Linked DNA regions of Homo sapiens: region 1 is linked to region 2. The links come from fine-mapping of genetic effects on gene expression. Tissue or cell type: cerebellum. Region 2 holds a variant in brackets; the other region holds the start of a gene. All regions are shown on one strand. Distances are between the middles of the regions.

Region 1 (8,170 bases), 740 kb after region 2:
TATATATATATATATATATATATATATATATATAAAAATTTAAAAAGCCATGATTTCCAAAAGAACTAAAAACTAGCTTAGTTGAGAACAGCAGCACTGTTTTACATTTTTGCAAATTTCATTAACAGGCAGGCTAATGGAAGAGATGGGATTCTGGAGGTCCTGGGGTCCACACTTTGAAAACAGCTACCTTTGAGTGACTATTAAAGAGTAAGAAGGAGAAAGGGAGAGAAAGAGAGAACTACTAAGTCAAAAGAGAACATGGTATTTTCTAAATAATTCAAAAGAAAAGGAAAAAACAAGACAAATGGAACATATATAGCAACACAGTAGACTTAACCCCAACAATACTGATAATTATATTTATTCTAATTAAAAAGCACAGAAAGGCCGGGCACAGTGGCTCACATCTGGAATCCCAGAACTTTGGGAGGCTGAGGCCAGAAGTCTGAGACTAGCCTGGGCAACAAAGCAAGACTCAGCCTCTACAAAAAATAAAAAACAGCCAGGCATGGTGGTGCACACCTATAGTCTAGCTACTAGGGAGGCTGAGGAGGGAGGATGAGCTATGATCACAGACTGCACTCAAACCTGGGCAACAGAGTGAGACTCTCTCCTCCCTGCAAAAATCAATTTAAAAAATACATTTTTAATTAAAAAAATTAAAATGTTTACTTTCCTGTCCTCTGTAAAAAAAAAAAAAAAAAAATTCAAAAATAAAGGCTGGGTGCAGTGGTTCACGCCTGTAATCCCAGCACTTTGGGTGGTCAAGATGGGCAGGTCGCTTGAGGCCAGGAGTTCAGGACCAGCCTGGGCAACATGGTGAAACCCCGCCTCTACAAAAATACCTGTCTCTACAAAAATACAAAAATTAGCCAGGAAATGGTGGCACACACTTGTAGTCCCAGCTACTCAGGAGGCTGAGGCGAGAGAATCGCTTGAACCCGGGAGGCGGAGGTTGCAGTGAGTCAAGATTGTACCACTGTACTCCAGCCTGAGTGACAGAGCAAGGCTCCGTCTCAAAAAAAAAAAAAAAAGCACAGACCATTAGGCTACATACAAATGCAAGATTGCTGTTTACAAGAGACACAATTTAAAACATACAGTTGTTAAACACTAGACACAAGGAAACTGGAGTGACTACACTGTCAGAAAAAATGAGGCTTCTGGACAAGAATATTGCTAGAGATCAAGATGGACATTTCTTAATGATAAAAGGGCCAATTCATCAAGCAGAATTAACATTCCTAAATGCATACGAACTTACTAATAGCTTCAAAATTCATGAAGCAAAAAATTGAAAAGATATGGGAGGCCAAGGCAAGAGGATTGCTTGAGCCGGAGTTCAAAGACCAGCCTGGACAATAGGGAAACCACCGTCTTAATTAAAAATAAAAAATTAAAAGGATAAAAAGAAAATAATATGACTGTGTAGAAAATCTTTAAAAATTTACAAAAAAATAAAGAAAACTAAGTGACTTTGGCCAGGCTGTAGGATACAAGATCAATATACAAAAATCAATTTTATGTATTCTTATATATACACAAGGTAATATAAAGTTTTAAAAAATATTTGCTGGCCGGGCACGGTGGCTCATGCCTGTAATCCCAGCACTTTGGGAGACTCCGTCTCAAAAAAAAAAAGTATTTACAATAGTATCAAGAACAGGAACAAATTTAACAAAATGTGAAAAGACTTTTATATTAAAAACTACAAAACATTGCTAAGAGAAGATTAAAATGACATAAATGGAAATAATTGTATGTATGTTTCATAGGGAAAAAAGTATTCATGCAATATTTGTGTAATTAAAATAATTAATTAAAAATAAATAAAATCCTTAACAAAGAAAATGAGATATACCCAGAACTAGACAGAGAAAATGGGTGTGAGTACTTTTGTAAAGAAATCTTGTTTCGATTCCAAGCAGGAAAAAATGTGCTTGAGACGATGCTAGCACACACGTAAAAAATCCAAGTTTTCCATTAATTACAAATCCACAAATTATATAACTTTTCTAAATGAGTTCAAAAGATTACAGGCTAGATCACTGCAGGGCACAAAGTCTTCCAACAAGGCGTTAATATGTAAAGCACAACCTTAATCAGAACATTTCCTTCTCTCCATAAATTTTGGGTCGAGCCTTCACCACTCAATCCCTCGAGTTCCCCAAGGGTGGCCCTTGGCGGGTTTTTTCCAAAGTGGGGCCAGAGGTCTGAACACCTGAGGTGAAATTCAAGTTCACGAGCAAGTCAACTAAATTTCAGAGCTCCCAACTTCCCTACATCGGTAAAATGGAGCCTAGCAAAGCCTACAAAAGACTAGGGGTTACCAGACTGCTTTAGAAAGGCGACACTTGGCCGGGCACGGTGGCTGACGCCTGTAATCCCAGCACTCTGGGAGGCCGAGGCGGGTAGATCACGAGGTCTGGAGTTCGAAACCATCCTGGCCAACATGGTGAAACCCCGTCTCTACTAAAAATACAAAAAATGAGTCGGGCATGGTGGCACGCGCCTGTAGTCCCACCTACTCGGGAGGCTGAGGCAGAAGAATCGCTTGAACCCCGGAGGCGGAGGTTGCAGTGGGCCCAGATCGCGCCACTGCACTCCAGCCTGGTGACAGAGCGAGACTCCGTCTCAAAAAAAAAAAAAAAAAGAAAGAAAGAAAAGAAAGGCGACACTTAACACACAGCAGGCGCTAAACACACATTCTTTGGGTTTGCATTTTGTCCAGAGCTAAGAGTAACAGGCATTCGGCAAAGGCTGGGGACGGGACGGGGACGGGGGCGGACGCGCGGAACTGAAAGAATCTCAGACTTCGGGTTCCAGTTCCCCCAGCCGGACTAAGCTACTCGCCCGGCCCCGGGCCCAAAGGCCTCAGGTGGTAACGGCCAAAGGGTCACCGCCTCCGCGGGGCGCTGCGTCCACAACACGGGTGGGGAAACGGTCAAGGTTTGCGGCGTTTGGGTTCATGACTGCAAAAACACCGTCCACTACGGGCCAAGCCGAGTGCCATGCCCTGCACCTACGTCTAAGCTCACAGCAGCCCGCACTGGGGCGAGGAATCCTGAGGAGGCTCGCCCCGGTCTCTGGGACTGGGCTCTCGCCGCGCTGCCTCAGGGCGCAAGTTCCACGCGCTTCGCCGGGCGCAGAAAAGCACCCCCCGCTCCGCGGCGCCCAGGCCGCCTCCCCCGACAACGCACCTCCGCAGCGACGCCTGCGCCTGGAAGGGGCTCGGCATCTAGACCGCAGCCCCGCGCGGGCCACACTCCCCAGCAAGTGCCTCGGCAGCGTCCCAGGAGACTCGCCGCGCTCGCCGGAGCTGGACGTGGCGCCGAGGTCCGCGTCGCCGCCCGCACCCCGGTGCTCACCTGTACCACGCAGCAGCCCAGGGCATCCTTCTGAGCGTCAGGAGGGACGATGTTCCGGGGCGTGTGGCCCGGGTGCAAGAAATGAACCATGGCAACCCCGGCGGCGGGGCGTCAAAAAGAGAGCCGGCGTCGAGCCGGAGCCCGGATCCCGCGAGAACCAAGCGGGCGGCTGCCAGGACGCGCCCACCACGCCTGCGAGGCACACGGAGCTAGCGCCGCGCCCTGCCGGCGAGCTTTTGAAATGCCCGGCGAGGCGACGCGCACGCGGGGGCCGGCCCGCCGCAGACCCCACCCCCCGGGCGGCCTCCTAGCCCCATCCGCCCTCCGACACGCCGCTGCCGGGGCCAACCGTTCTCCTCCCGCCTCCCCAGCCTCCCCAGCCTCCCCAGACCAACCTGCCACGACCCAGCCGCTCACCCACTCCTTCCCAGCCCTGCACCTCAGGGCTTGAGAGGATATTCCCCGAGGACCGGCTGTGTAGGTTTGGGGAATACTGTATATATATATACATGTACACACACACACACACACACACACACACACACACACACACATATTCATTATTTCTATATATGTATATATTTTTTAAAGCTTTCATACATTAAAATATATATTTCAAAGACTTTGCCCCTGAAAATCTGGCAACAGCACCTCTCTAACGGTCCTCTCTGTTTCAACTCCTTAGAGTATCTGGATAAATCAAATATAAAACGAATACAAAATATTGGCAAGTATCTACCAAAAAATCTATTTAGCTTTCTTGTTACTTAAAAAGTACTCGAGAAGACCCTTATAACCTGCTCCAAGAAAGAAACCCCGAGAGACCCTTCTAACTTTCTCCAGGAAAGAAACTCCACAAGTTAGTACACATTAGCTAATTTAAGAGAAAGCAATACCTTGGAAAAGGAAAGTTCTCAAGAGCATGAGCCTTGGAGTTTGAATCCTGAATTAGAATGCCCGCTCAGCCATCTAGTGTTTGAGAACCTGGAGCAAGATTCTTGATGTCTCTGAAGCTCAACTTCCTCATCAGTAAAATAGAATGAGAATGCTTTATCTCACAGACTTAATGTAAGGATTAAATAATGTATGTAAAACACATCACAATGCTTTTTACATAGTAAGTCCTTGATAAGTGGATTGGATTCAGATGTTAAAATTATTTTTAAGTACTTTGCCTAATGCTTTTCTTTCATTTATTTATTCTTTTATTTAATCCACTTACTACAAGAAGAAAAAAAATCCTGTGCTGTAGGTATCATCCCCATTTTTCTCACAGGGAAACTGAAGAACTGACAGGTTGAATAGACAACACGTTTTTTGGCCAGCTGATGAGTGGCCAACCTGGGAGTCAAAATTGAGTTTTCTTACTGCAAGTCCAATCAATATGCTTTTTTTTTTTTTTTTTTTTTAGACGGAGTCTCGCTCTGTTGCCCAGGCTGGAGTGCAGTGACGCGATCTCAGCTCACAGCAACCTCCGCCTCCTGGGTTCAAGTGATTCTCCTGCCTCAGCCTCCCAAGCAGCTGGGACTCCAGGCGCGCGCCACCACACCCGGCTAATTTTTGTATTTTTAGTAGAGACAGCGTTTCACCATGTTGGCCAGGATGGTCTAGATCTCCTGACCTGGTGATCCGCACGCCTCGGCGTCTCAAAATGTTGGGATTACAGGCGTGAGCCACCGTGCCCCCGCCAATATGCTTTTGTTAACGGTGGAGGGTGTTCATGTTCTTGGTGTCTTGAACAAAGAATTGGACAAAACGCACAAACAAGGAAGGAATGAAGGGATTTATTGAAAATGAAAGTACACTCCACAATGCCACAATGTGGGAGTGGGCCCGAGCACTGGGGCTCAAAGACCCCGTTACAGAATTTTTGGGAGTTTAAATACCCTCTACTTGGGGTATGCCCTATGTAAATGACGAGGATGAAGGAAAGTTACAGTCATTTCCTCGGCTTTTGCCCAATGGAGAGGATATTTCCTATTACAGCTGAAGTGTGAATTTCAGCAATTTTAACTTTAATATAGAACCTGGTAAGTTATGTTCTCATAAGGTTTGACTATTTCCAGCATATCTAGAGGTGTGGCCAACTGCATATGTCCCAGGCCTTACCGAGCTAGAAAACAGGCAAGTTAAACAATTTTCAAAAGCCAAGGAAGCAGTTTATGACCTTAAAGCATTTAGCAAACCTAATATTTGAACATAATTTTGACCACATGTTTACATTTTGAAGACATTTGTATTTTATCAATAATCTTTAAACCCATCTTTATTTCCCAAAGATTACCCAAGTCACATGAACTAAATAAAAGGCATTATGTTTTTCACTTTTCTGACAAAATATTTTATTTAAGCTCTTATTATTAAACCAATTAATTTAAAACGTAACACATGAGGCCAGGCACGGTGGCTCATGCCTGTAATCCCAGCACTATGGGAGGCCGAGATGGGTGGATCGCCTGAAGTCAGGAGTTCAAGACCAGCCTGGCCAACATAGTGAAACCCAATCTCTACTAAAAATACACAAAAAAATTACCTGGGCATGGTGGCGCATCCCTGTAATCCCAGCTACTTGGGAGGCTGAGCCAGATTTGCTTGAACCCAGGAGGCAGAGGTTGCAGTAAATTTAGATTGCGCCATTGCACTCCAGCCCCGGTGACAAAGCGAGACTTTGTTGCAAAAAGTAAAAATAAGTAAATAAAAGTGGCTGGGTGCAGTGGCTCACACCGTAATCCCAACATTTTGGGAGGCCAAGGCAAGTGAATCACCTGAAGTCGGGGTTTGAGACCAGCCTGACCAACATGGAGAAACCCCGTTTCTACTAAAAACACAAAAATTAGCTGGGCATGGTGGTGTGCGCCTGTAGTCCCAGCTGCTCGGGAGGCTGAGGCAGGAGAATTCCTTGAACGCAGGAGGCGGAAGTTGCAGTGAGCCGAGATGACGCCACTGCACTCCAGCCTGGCGACAGAGTGAGACTCTCTTTCTTAAAAAATAAATAAAAATAAAAAAATAGGGCCGGGCGCGGTGGCTCACGCCTGTAATCCCAGCACTTTGGGAGGCCGAGGCGGGCGGATCACGAGGTCAGGAGATCGAGACCATCCCGGCTAAAACGGTGAAACCCCGTCTCTACTAAAAATACAAAAAATTAGCCGGGCGTAGTGGCGGGCGCCTGTAGTCCCAGCTACTTGGGAGGCTGAGGCAGGAGAATGGCGTGAACCCGGGAGGCGGAGCTTGCAGTGAGCCGAGATCCCGCCACTGCACTCCAGCCTGGGCGACAGAGTGAGACTCCGTCTCAAAAAAAAAAAAAAAAAAAAAAATAGGCTTTGCCGTTTCTGTCATGGGCACAAAGCGGTGGCCTGATTGTCAGTCTTCTCCTGGCATTTTTAAGGCCAGGAGCCAAGTGCTGCTTGTGGGCAAATAACCTACAGAGCGGTTTTGCTTTTAAAATTATTGTTATTGGCCAGGCGTGGTGGCTCACTCCTGTAATCCCGGCACTGTGGGAGGCCGAGGTGGATGGATCACTTGAGGTCAGGAGTTCGAGACCAGCCTGACCAACATGATGAAACTCTCTCTCTACTAAAAATACAAAAATTAGCCAAGCGGGGTGGCAGGCGCCTGTAATCCCAGCTACTTGGGAGGCTAAAGCAAGAGAATAACTTGAACCTGGGAGGTGGAGATTGCAGTGAGCCGAGATTGTGCCATTGCACTCCAGCTTGGGTGACAAAAAGGAAACTGTGTCTCAAAAAAAATAAATAAATAAAATCGGCTGGGCGCAGTGGCTCATGCCTGTAATCCCTGCACTTCGGGAGGCTGAGGTGGGTGGATCACCTGAGGTCAGGAGTTCAAAACCAGCCTGGCCAACATGATGAAACTCCATCTCTAGTAAAAATACAAAATTAGCCGGGCTTGGTGGCAGATGCCCGTAATCCCAGCTACTCGGGAGGCTGAGGCGGGAGAATCGTTTAAACATGGGAGGCAGAGGTTGCAGTGAGCCCAGATTGCGCCATTGCATTCCAGCCTAGGCAACAGAGCAAGACTCCATCTCAGACAAAAATAAAAAATAAATAACAATAAATTTAAAAAATGAAATTATCATTGTTATTATTTGGAGCACAGAACAGTCGATCTGGGCACCCTGTCCTGTGTCTTTTGATACTCTGTGTTTAAGAAAAAAAAATCAATTATGTGTTTTATTTCATGAATCAGTTTTGGAGGGCTTCTGGCTATCCTTTTTTCCTCATATTCTACTGAGATTATTTTTTATTTTTTTATTTTTTTTTTGAGATGGGGTCTCACTCTGTCACCCAGGCTGGAGTGCAGTGGTGCAATCTCGGCTCACTGCAAGCTCTGCCTCCCAGGTTCATGCTGTTCTCCTGCCTCAGCCTCCCAAGTAGCTGGGACTACAGGCGCCCACCACCACGCCTGGCTAACTTCTTGTATTTTTAGTAGAGACGGGGTTTCACCGTGTTAGCCAGGATGGTCTCGATCTCCTGACCTTGTGATCCGCCCGCCTCGGCCTCCCAAAGTGCTGGGATTACAGCTTGAGCCACTGCGCCCGGCCCTTCTACTGAGATTATACAAAGCAGCAAGTTGCCAGGCGCAGTGGCTCACGCCTGTAATCCCAGTCCTTAGGGCGACAGAGACAGGGGAATAGCTTGAACCCAGGAGTACGAGACCTGCCTGGGCAATATGGCGAGACCCCATTCCCACAAAAAGGAGGAAAAAAAGGACAAAAAACAAAAACAAAGCTGCATGTTTTCCACAGAGTAGGAAATCCAATGGCAAGATAGTGTGTAGGTTTG
Region 2 (8,172 bases):
TTGGGTTTTATAAAACAACAATAGGCATGAGAAGAGTCCCTTACTTTGGTGAAGAGTTTTACCAAAGCTGTGAGCACGGTCCGGAAGGCATGTGCAGAGGTGAAAAGCCCAGGTCTGGAGTCCCACAGACCTGGGACCCAGCCTGGTTTAGTCACTTGGCAGCTGTGTGACCTCGTGCTGGTGACTTACCCTTTCTGAACTACAGCATACTCGATTGTAAAATGGAGTAATAATAGTACTTGCCTTTTAGGGTTGTTGTGATTAGGGATAAAAGAGATGATGTAAGGGAGGGTGCTTGCTTCCCCATCACACTCCAGCATTGATCTCAGGTGATGTGTACAGTAGCCCTGGGGCTTAGGGCAGGGTTATTTACAGCTGATTTACAGATGAAGAAACTGTGGCTCAAAAGAGCCAGTCAATGGGTGGCAGAGCCTGGACTTGAGACTGTAGCAGCCTCTGCTGTCAGTAGGGTGGGAAGGGCAGTATGTGGGTGGTTGCTTTGGGCAGGGCAGGCACTCTGTCCTTGCCATTCGATATCTACCAGGGATCCCTGATTCTTTGCATCTTGTTCATTGACAGTCATTTGCAGATCACCTTCTCTGAGTCAGACAGTGTCTGCTCAGGGGGCATGGAGCTAGGCTGGGGCAGCTGGACCTGTGGCATAGGAGGCCCATGCGTGTCCTCCCAGTCCTCATGAGCTGCTGGAGTCTCGGGCCGGGTTTTCATCCTGCCCAGCTTCCTCTGGCCACTGCAGCTGCACTGGCCACTGGTCTCCATTCCTTACGCCCCTCTCCACTGTTTGCCAGTCTGTCCCAGGTGCCTCTGAATCTAGGGCCAGAGAAATCAATCTGGTTGAAAGCTGAGTATTACGGATTGGCCTTAACTAGCCAAGGAACTCAGAACACAAGCCACCTGGCTGGACCTGCCGGGAGGGCCTTGCCCTCCTAGCCTGGGCCAAACTCACGGTCATTCCCCATAATCCTGGGGCTTCTGGCTTTCCCTTTTGCCTTGCCCCAAACCTTTACCCCCCTCCGCCAGCCCCTGAGAAACAAAATCCTGGGTGCTGGGAGGGGCGGGGGAGCTAAAGGGAGTTGCTCCTTACTGAGATTCAGAGATGGTTTTATCCTGGCTCAATGCAAGCCATTCCCTATCTGTTGTTTTGACCTCCTAGCTGGGCATGGTGGTACATGCCTGTAGCCCCAGCTACGTGGGAGGCTGAGGCAGGAGGATCACTTGGGCCAGGGAGTTTGAGGCTATAGTGAGCTATGATCACACCACTGCACTCCAGCCTGGGTGACAGAGCATGACCCTGTCTCAAAAACAAAAACCTCCGAGGCCCAGAGAGGCCAAATCACTTCTCAAGATCACACAGTCTGCCAAGTGGCAGGAGGTAGATACCAACCATATCTGCTGACCTGCCCAACCAGTGTTAACTGGAGAGAGATTTGATTGGGGTTCTGGGCTCATATCCCATGGGATATCCTGAGGGAGAAGAGAATTAATATATTCTGAAACTTACCATGGCCAGCCATGAATTACCATGCCCATTTTACAGAAGAAGAAACTGTATGTTTCTGAAGTTCGCAGGCAAAATGGCTTGCTCTGTATGACCTGCCTCAGCTGCCTGGCCCATTCTAATGGGACACACCGCCTTCTACTCATCTACTTTTGCCCAACCTCTTCCTTCAGAAGAACAGTCACCTCTGTGCTTTTCAAATCACAGTGGGTGGAGTCCCTGTGCATCTGCTGCCTTCTGCCCCCTGCCCAACATCTTGAGACCAGCCCTGTGGGCTTGAGCATTTTAAGGCCAGCACACACCCCTCACCCATTGCAACATCTGAAGCTCATCCCAGGGAATTACCCAGGATCCTGAAATGGATGAGTGGCAGGTCGGCCAGTTCATCCCATCACATACAGACAGAGAACAGGGAAGACAGACCCAGAGAGGGTGGTCAGGGGCCCAGGACTGCACAACAAGTATGCATCAGTGGGCAGGGAAAGTTCCCTGAAGGGGCTGATAATCGAAAGTTGGGGAAGGTTTAGGCTGTGGGAAAGTGACCCTCCAATTAGGAAAGAATTATTCCCCTGAAACACTTGCCTTGCTTTGGTGTGCCAGGCCTCGTGCTAGGAGCTGGGGGTGCAGAGATGAAGATGTTGTGATGTGAGACTTCTGGCACTGTGGGAAGAACACTGCTTTTGAATCTTGTGATATTATTGCTGGATGATGGAGACAGGGAGGGGAGCCAGGAGCTGAGGTTTTGCAGCCTGGCTTTATAAGCTTGGCCAGGTTGATCAAGTGGGACAAGATCATTATTGAGACGCTTGTTGGGCGATTTTCAGTTTATGTAGTGCTTCCACGTGCATGATCTCAGCCCTCAAAATATTCATGGAGACTGGAATTATGATCCCCATTTTATAGATGGGGAAAGGACAGTCCAGTTCTGGCCCAAGTTCAGGTCCCAAATGCATGGTGGGGTCGGATTTAAACCCAGGTCTCAGTCTGACTCCAGAGACTGTGTACTAGCCATGACCCCAAGCCACCTCCCAGGCACAGAATCATCAGTCTGTTTACAAACATTGAGAGAATATCCAGATCTGAAACTCATTCAGCAAGCTGTCACTAAGCACCTGCTGTGTGCCCCCTGGCTGGGTCCTGGGGTCACAGAAGGGAATCAAATCCTGCCTGGTCTCAAGGAGCCCTCAGTCGAGTGGGGAAGTAAATGGATATTGCATGTAACTATTTTTCTCAAGAAGCCAGCACCCAGTCACCTTGAGAGCCTGTTGCCTGCTGACTTGATGGGTTCTTTGTTCTGTCTTGGAGTAGAGAACACCTCATGGGTTGAAAAGTAAAACATTTCACTCTCATTAGAATAGTCGCCTGGAAACAAGCTCCCTTCCTGGAGGCTGGGGTTTCTGGTCAAATCAAAAAGCTGCCCTGGAGAATCCTGCTGTAAATGAGGCCAGAGAGGCCAAGTGGTCCCACCCACTCAAGCCACCAAGTCTATCCTCAACTTGCCTCAACTCAATCTAGGATTGGATGGATCTGGGAAGGAGACCTGTTTTGGGCAAAGTCAGCTTGCAAGTTGGCATCCAGAAGTGTCCTCGTTAATGATCCTTCCTGGGATCATGTCACTTCTCATGTCTACCCTCATTATTAGGTGGGGAAGCTGAAGCCCAGAGAGCAGGCACCATGGCCTCATGTCATCCGGTACATTAACAGCAACCCAGGGATGCCTGCTTTATTTCTTCCTGCCCTGAAGCTTCCTCTCCTCCTGAATTCCTAGAGAGTCTGCATTCTCCAGGTCCTTTAAATCCTTTGGGTCTTGGCTTTTGCTGATTCCTTTGTCTAGAATGCCTTTCCTAGCCTGGCAAACTCCTATACATCCTTCACAACTCAGTTCAGTGCTCCCTCCTTAGCTCCCCCTTTCTCTGTGCCTCCTGTTCTCCCAGCATGTGTTGCGCTGTGTGTAACAGTGGTTCCTAACATGGCCAAGTGTCTGGGGGACCACATGCCCTTCAGTGCCTGGCCTGGCCTTCATTGTGGAGGAGCTGAGTCCCCTCCCTAGGACAGAGGCTCTGCCCTGTGATTATCTGTTCTCTCTGTTCCAAGGCTGTGTGAGGTTGCCCGGACCCTGTCTTCCTGAGTAGTTTCCCATGAAGTCACAACATTGGTGGGACTTTAAAGACTGTCACGTCTACCCCCTAATCTGGTGCTTGAAGTTTTTCTGCAAGAAAGCCTGAATTTGAAACCTAGCTTTGCCACCCCTCAGCCTGTGATTGTGTACAAGTATAGCTTGACTTCTATAAGCCTCGGTTTTCTTACCTATGAAATTGGGGTAATAGGACTGTTGTGAGGCTTTGATGAGAAACTAGACAATGGCACACAGTAAGTATATCAGAATGGTCCTGGCC[G/A]TTCTGGACAGTTTGCATTTGCGAAAGAGAAAAGGGAAAGTCTAAAATGGATAGTGGCTGTTCAGTCACGAATGTCCCCAAAGAAACAGAAAAGGCTGTTGGAAGTCCCAGCTCTGCCATGGGCTGGCTCTGTGACCTTGGATGCGTCGCTTGGCTGTGCTGAGCCTCAGTTTCCTGCACTGTGAAATGGGATAGTGCCTAGCAGTCAGAGTCTGCAGTAGACAGTGTTTAGTAGGGGCTCAACAGATGCCAATGTCCTTTCTTCTCTTGAGCCCGAGGTTTAGCTCCACAGATCTTGGCTTACATTGGGATGCTTTTCTTCCTCCCCTGTTTTGGAAAAGCAAACCCAGGGGGCTTGGGCTTAACAAGGAGAGGCTTCCTGGAAGCCAGTGTCCTTCCAGTTCTCTGGCCTTGCAATTAGGTCAGAGCCTCGTCCCCCACCAGCCACTGTGCAGAGGGGAGACTGAGTCCCCAGATGGAAATAACTTGCCTGGGGAAGGACAAGAGGGACTGGAGATAGATGGAGTTGGAGACTCATCCCAGCTCTGCTGCTCACTAGCCATGCAGCCTTGGACAAGACACTTCACTCCCAAGTCTGTTTTTGCATCTGTAAAATGGGAGCTGTGATGCTCACCCCAGAAGTTTCTGTAGGGGGTGGAGGGGCTGTGCTCTGTACCTGCAGAGTGCTCTGCAGAGGGGCACTGTTGCCCTAGTCAGGGCTGCTGGGCTGAAGCTGAGTCTCTGACTCCCATTCCAGTACTCCTGCCTGCAGCCAGGCCTCTGAGTACAGACAGGGCACTTTCACAGGTGTGTTCCTCCCGGTTAGATTCCCCATCAGGAATGGAACAGGTTGGCTATGTGCTCCCCAAATGTAGTTCCTGGTCTTGAGGCCTCAGCCTGCAGCTTTGCTGGATGCCCTCCTTCCCTGCTCCACAGCCCACCCCCACCTCACTTCCACCTCCATCCCCACCCTGCCCTGTTTCACCCCCATTCCCCATCCCCCATTTCTACTTATCTCCATCCCTGACCCCCCACCCCTTTCCCTTCTTACTTAAATTCTGAGCCAGGGTGGACCAATGGCTAAACACACAGGACAACCACTAAGGTTCAAATCCCTTACTCTGCCCTTAACCAGCTGTGAGACCTCAAGACAAGTCACGTGGCATCTCTGAGCCTTGGTTTCCTGTCTGCGTGGAGGGGAGAGTGTTGTGAGAACTAGATGAGATCATATATGTGTAGCACTTACCTCGTGCCTGGCGCATATTAGATGCTTGAAAACAGGAGCCCTTGTTCCTTCCCCCACCTCCCCATTTTTTGAAGTCGTTAGTCCCAAGCTCTCACAGGGAAGAGAATTCCCAGGAGCACCAAATTTGAGGGAACAGGAGGGCTGGCCAAGTTTTGTGAGCCCAACATTGCTTTATGGAATATGAAAAAAAATTAAGGATAAAAAACACAACTATTTGAATTGAATTTAAACTAATAAAGGAAAAAGCTTTTGAACTTAATGTAAATGGAATTGAAATGATTGTCTTACTGGAGTGAGAATGTCAGATAAAATCAACAGTGACTTTAAGAAGGTGTCCAGACCATGTTTTCTGAGAGGGCCATCCTGGAAATGGCAAACTTCGTAACTGAGAATTTATAGACTCTGTCTCTGCTGGATAACAGATGGGGTTGCCAGAGCTGGCTTTGTGTGCTCACTTGGATGGCTGCAGCTGCAGACCTCAGCATCCTGTTCTCGTCTGTTAAATGGGGGATGGGCCAGGTAACCCCTAAGGTCTCGGTCACCTTGGACACACCAAGACCGAGATGCTGAGGAGAAGAGGCCCTTCTTTAGAGTCCTTCCTTAACTGTGCCCTTCCCTTGGGAGACAGCCTTGGGCTAATCTGTATTGTCCACCCCCACCTGGCCACCAACCTTTCAACACAGCTTGACACCCCCTTGTGCCAAGTTCAGTGCTAGAAGCAAGGAGTACAGTGTCAAAGGAAGAATGGTCTGGTGGCAAATGAATTAACCAAATGCCTCTGACACAGAGGAGGGAGAAGGATTTCCTCAGGATGTCATGAGAGCTGGGCTCTGACAGGTGGGTGGGCACTTTCCAGGTGTAGACCATGAGAAGACCCATTGCAGGGAAAGGAAACAGCACACGTGAAGGTTTTGACATGTGATAGTCTTGACCTTGTGGGGAACATAGGTGTCCTTTTGGTCTTGAAGTGAATTACCTGCATGGGGGCTGAGGGCAGAAACATCGGAATTGAGCCTCAAAGGGCCTCAAGGTCTAGTGTAAGGAAATTGGACTGTGCCCCGAGGGAGTGGAGAGAGTCTCAGAAGAGTTGTACACAGGACTGTGATATGGGCAGAGGTAACATTTAGTGTTGCTAGTGTGGTGGGTACATGGCAATTGGCAGATGAGGACACTGGGGCTCAGGAAGGGCAGTCCACTCAAATCTGGAGCCCTTCTTCCACAGATCCACCGGCCTCGGACCATGCACCCAGTCTTGCCAACGCCTGGGCACCCGTGGGCCAGGCCAGGTCAGCCTAGTGTGTCGTGCTGGGGCACAGTGTCTGCACATGTTTGGGTAATGGAGCTGGGTCCTCCTTCGGAAACTGCCTCCAGCACATTTGCCAGTGGGAAATGGGAAAAGCATATCCCATAATGTGGTTCCGTAAAGTTTGCACAACTGTTCTTTGTTTTCCACCCGTCCCCACAATAAATCTTCTTCCACTGCCAGGACTGGGGCCTCCGTGGTCTGTAAGTGATTAAGGCACCGACTTTCCCGGCCCCTCCTCCTCGCAATACATTCTTGTGACGTGGGTAATGATAAAATGAGAATCTGTCACTGAGATTCTGTTGCCTTGCAAGTAGCAATTTCCAAATGGCTGGGAGGTGGCCTCCTGTTAGAAGGCAGCCTGCTCTTGCCCTCTCTGTATAGCCACTTCCCTTGATAGGTCCTGCCATGTTGGGACATAAGCTCAGACAGCAGATGGACAATGTGGTACTGGGCGGTACGTTTCCTGGGGATGGGGCAATGGGACTGGAGGTCTCTGCAGGACTCTGCATTCTGGGGGGCAAGACTGGGACATCTGCTGGGCACAGAGCACCCAGTGAGTGTCTGTTCAACTGATGAACCATCTAGCAGCCCCTTTGTTTTATCAGATCCCCAAGCCATAGTGTTTTCAAGCCAAAAGTAACATTTGTATCTTCCTGGGGAACAGTCAGGCCCTGGGCAGGGCCCTGGGCTGCAGAGTTTTGATGGCTAGATCCTGTGCTCAGGGAAGGCACAGGGCGGTGGCTGGATTGCTGTTTCACAGTGGGGTCACTGAAATGCACAGAGTGGAAGCTACTTGGCCAGTGTTACATCTGCGCCTCCAGCTCAGGTCCTGGCTCTGCCCCATGATCTTCCCGCTGTCCCTAGTTGCCTACCACATTTAAATGTGAGTGTATTCTTCCCAGCATCTGCTGAACCCCAAGTTTTGGGAGGCAGTTTGGCTTACGGGGTCATTTCTGATCAGGCTGAGTTGCCAGTGAACATGACAGTGATTGGAGCTTAAGAGAGTCTGGCCACAGGCAGAAAAAATGAGTGCTTCAGATACTTCCGTAAGATCCCCAGTACCCCTTCTACCTGCTCCCCTCCCTCCTTCCCACAGGAGTCCAGGACAACAGAAGGTGCCTCAGCTAGGCCACAAGGCCGACTGCCTGGATCTTCACATTTGCTGTTTGCAGATGTGGAAACTGAGGCCCATAGAGAGGATGTGGCTCACTGGAAATTGCAGAGCGAAAGAGGCAAGCTCAGCATCCCTCACTCCCAGCCAGTGTCCTGCCTGCTAGACACCACAGTCTGCTGAGTACCACCTGTGTGCTAGTACCACCTGCGGTGAGCACTTACATGTGTTGCCTTCCAGATTCTGAAGAACACTGGCTCTTGTCATGTGCACTGGGAGGAAATTTCCCAGGTTCAGCAGCTCCTCTGATGCCCCTCCCAACCCCTGCCACACCCTTTGACAGATGGGGCCTTGAGACCCAGGGCGGAGAGGTGACCTGCTGGAGGTCACACAGCAGGAGACGGTTGGCGGTGCATGTAGACCACACGTGTCAAAATCACCTTCCCTCCTAGCAGGGTCTGATTCACAAAGAGCTGCTGGGCAGGCTCCAGGGAGACTTTAACCAGTTTCAAATGTCACACCTTCTTAGTGCATTGGGAAGGTGTGATGACTGATTGCTGTGGGTGTTAGGGTCAGAGGAAGCCTGGCTTGTGCAAA

Direction of the effects. Positions count from the first base shown, and alleles are read on the strand shown. Sizes are in standard deviations (SD) of each study's normalised expression.
For the expression in cerebellum of the gene that starts at base 3,585 in region 1, G is the low allele of the variant in region 2 and A is the other (large effect, 2.2 SD a copy in GTEx).

The links. PIP is the estimated chance that this variant, and not a neighbour inherited with it, causes the effect.
Region 1: it holds the start of ZYG11A, and the variant in region 2 is fine-mapped to the expression of ZYG11A in cerebellum (GTEx, PIP above 0.99).

Annotation. Positions count from the first base shown.
Region 1 is chr1:52,838,175-52,846,344 of GRCh38, reverse strand. ZYG11A (zyg-11 family member A, cell cycle regulator) reads right to left here and starts at 3,585. Exons shown (of 14, transcript NM_001004339.3): 1 at 3,372-3,585. The coding sequence starts at 3,461. RefSeq lists an enhancer at 2,411-3,004 and a silencer at 3,506-3,835.
Region 2 is chr1:53,582,268-53,590,439 of GRCh38, reverse strand. The region is part of intron 4 of GLIS1 (GLIS family zinc finger 1); the gene reads left to right. Among named protein-coding and RNA genes, the nearest start is that of DMRTB1, 130 kb to the right of the region's middle. RefSeq lists a silencer at 4,998-5,198. The variant G/A (reference allele first, on the strand shown) is at 3,913.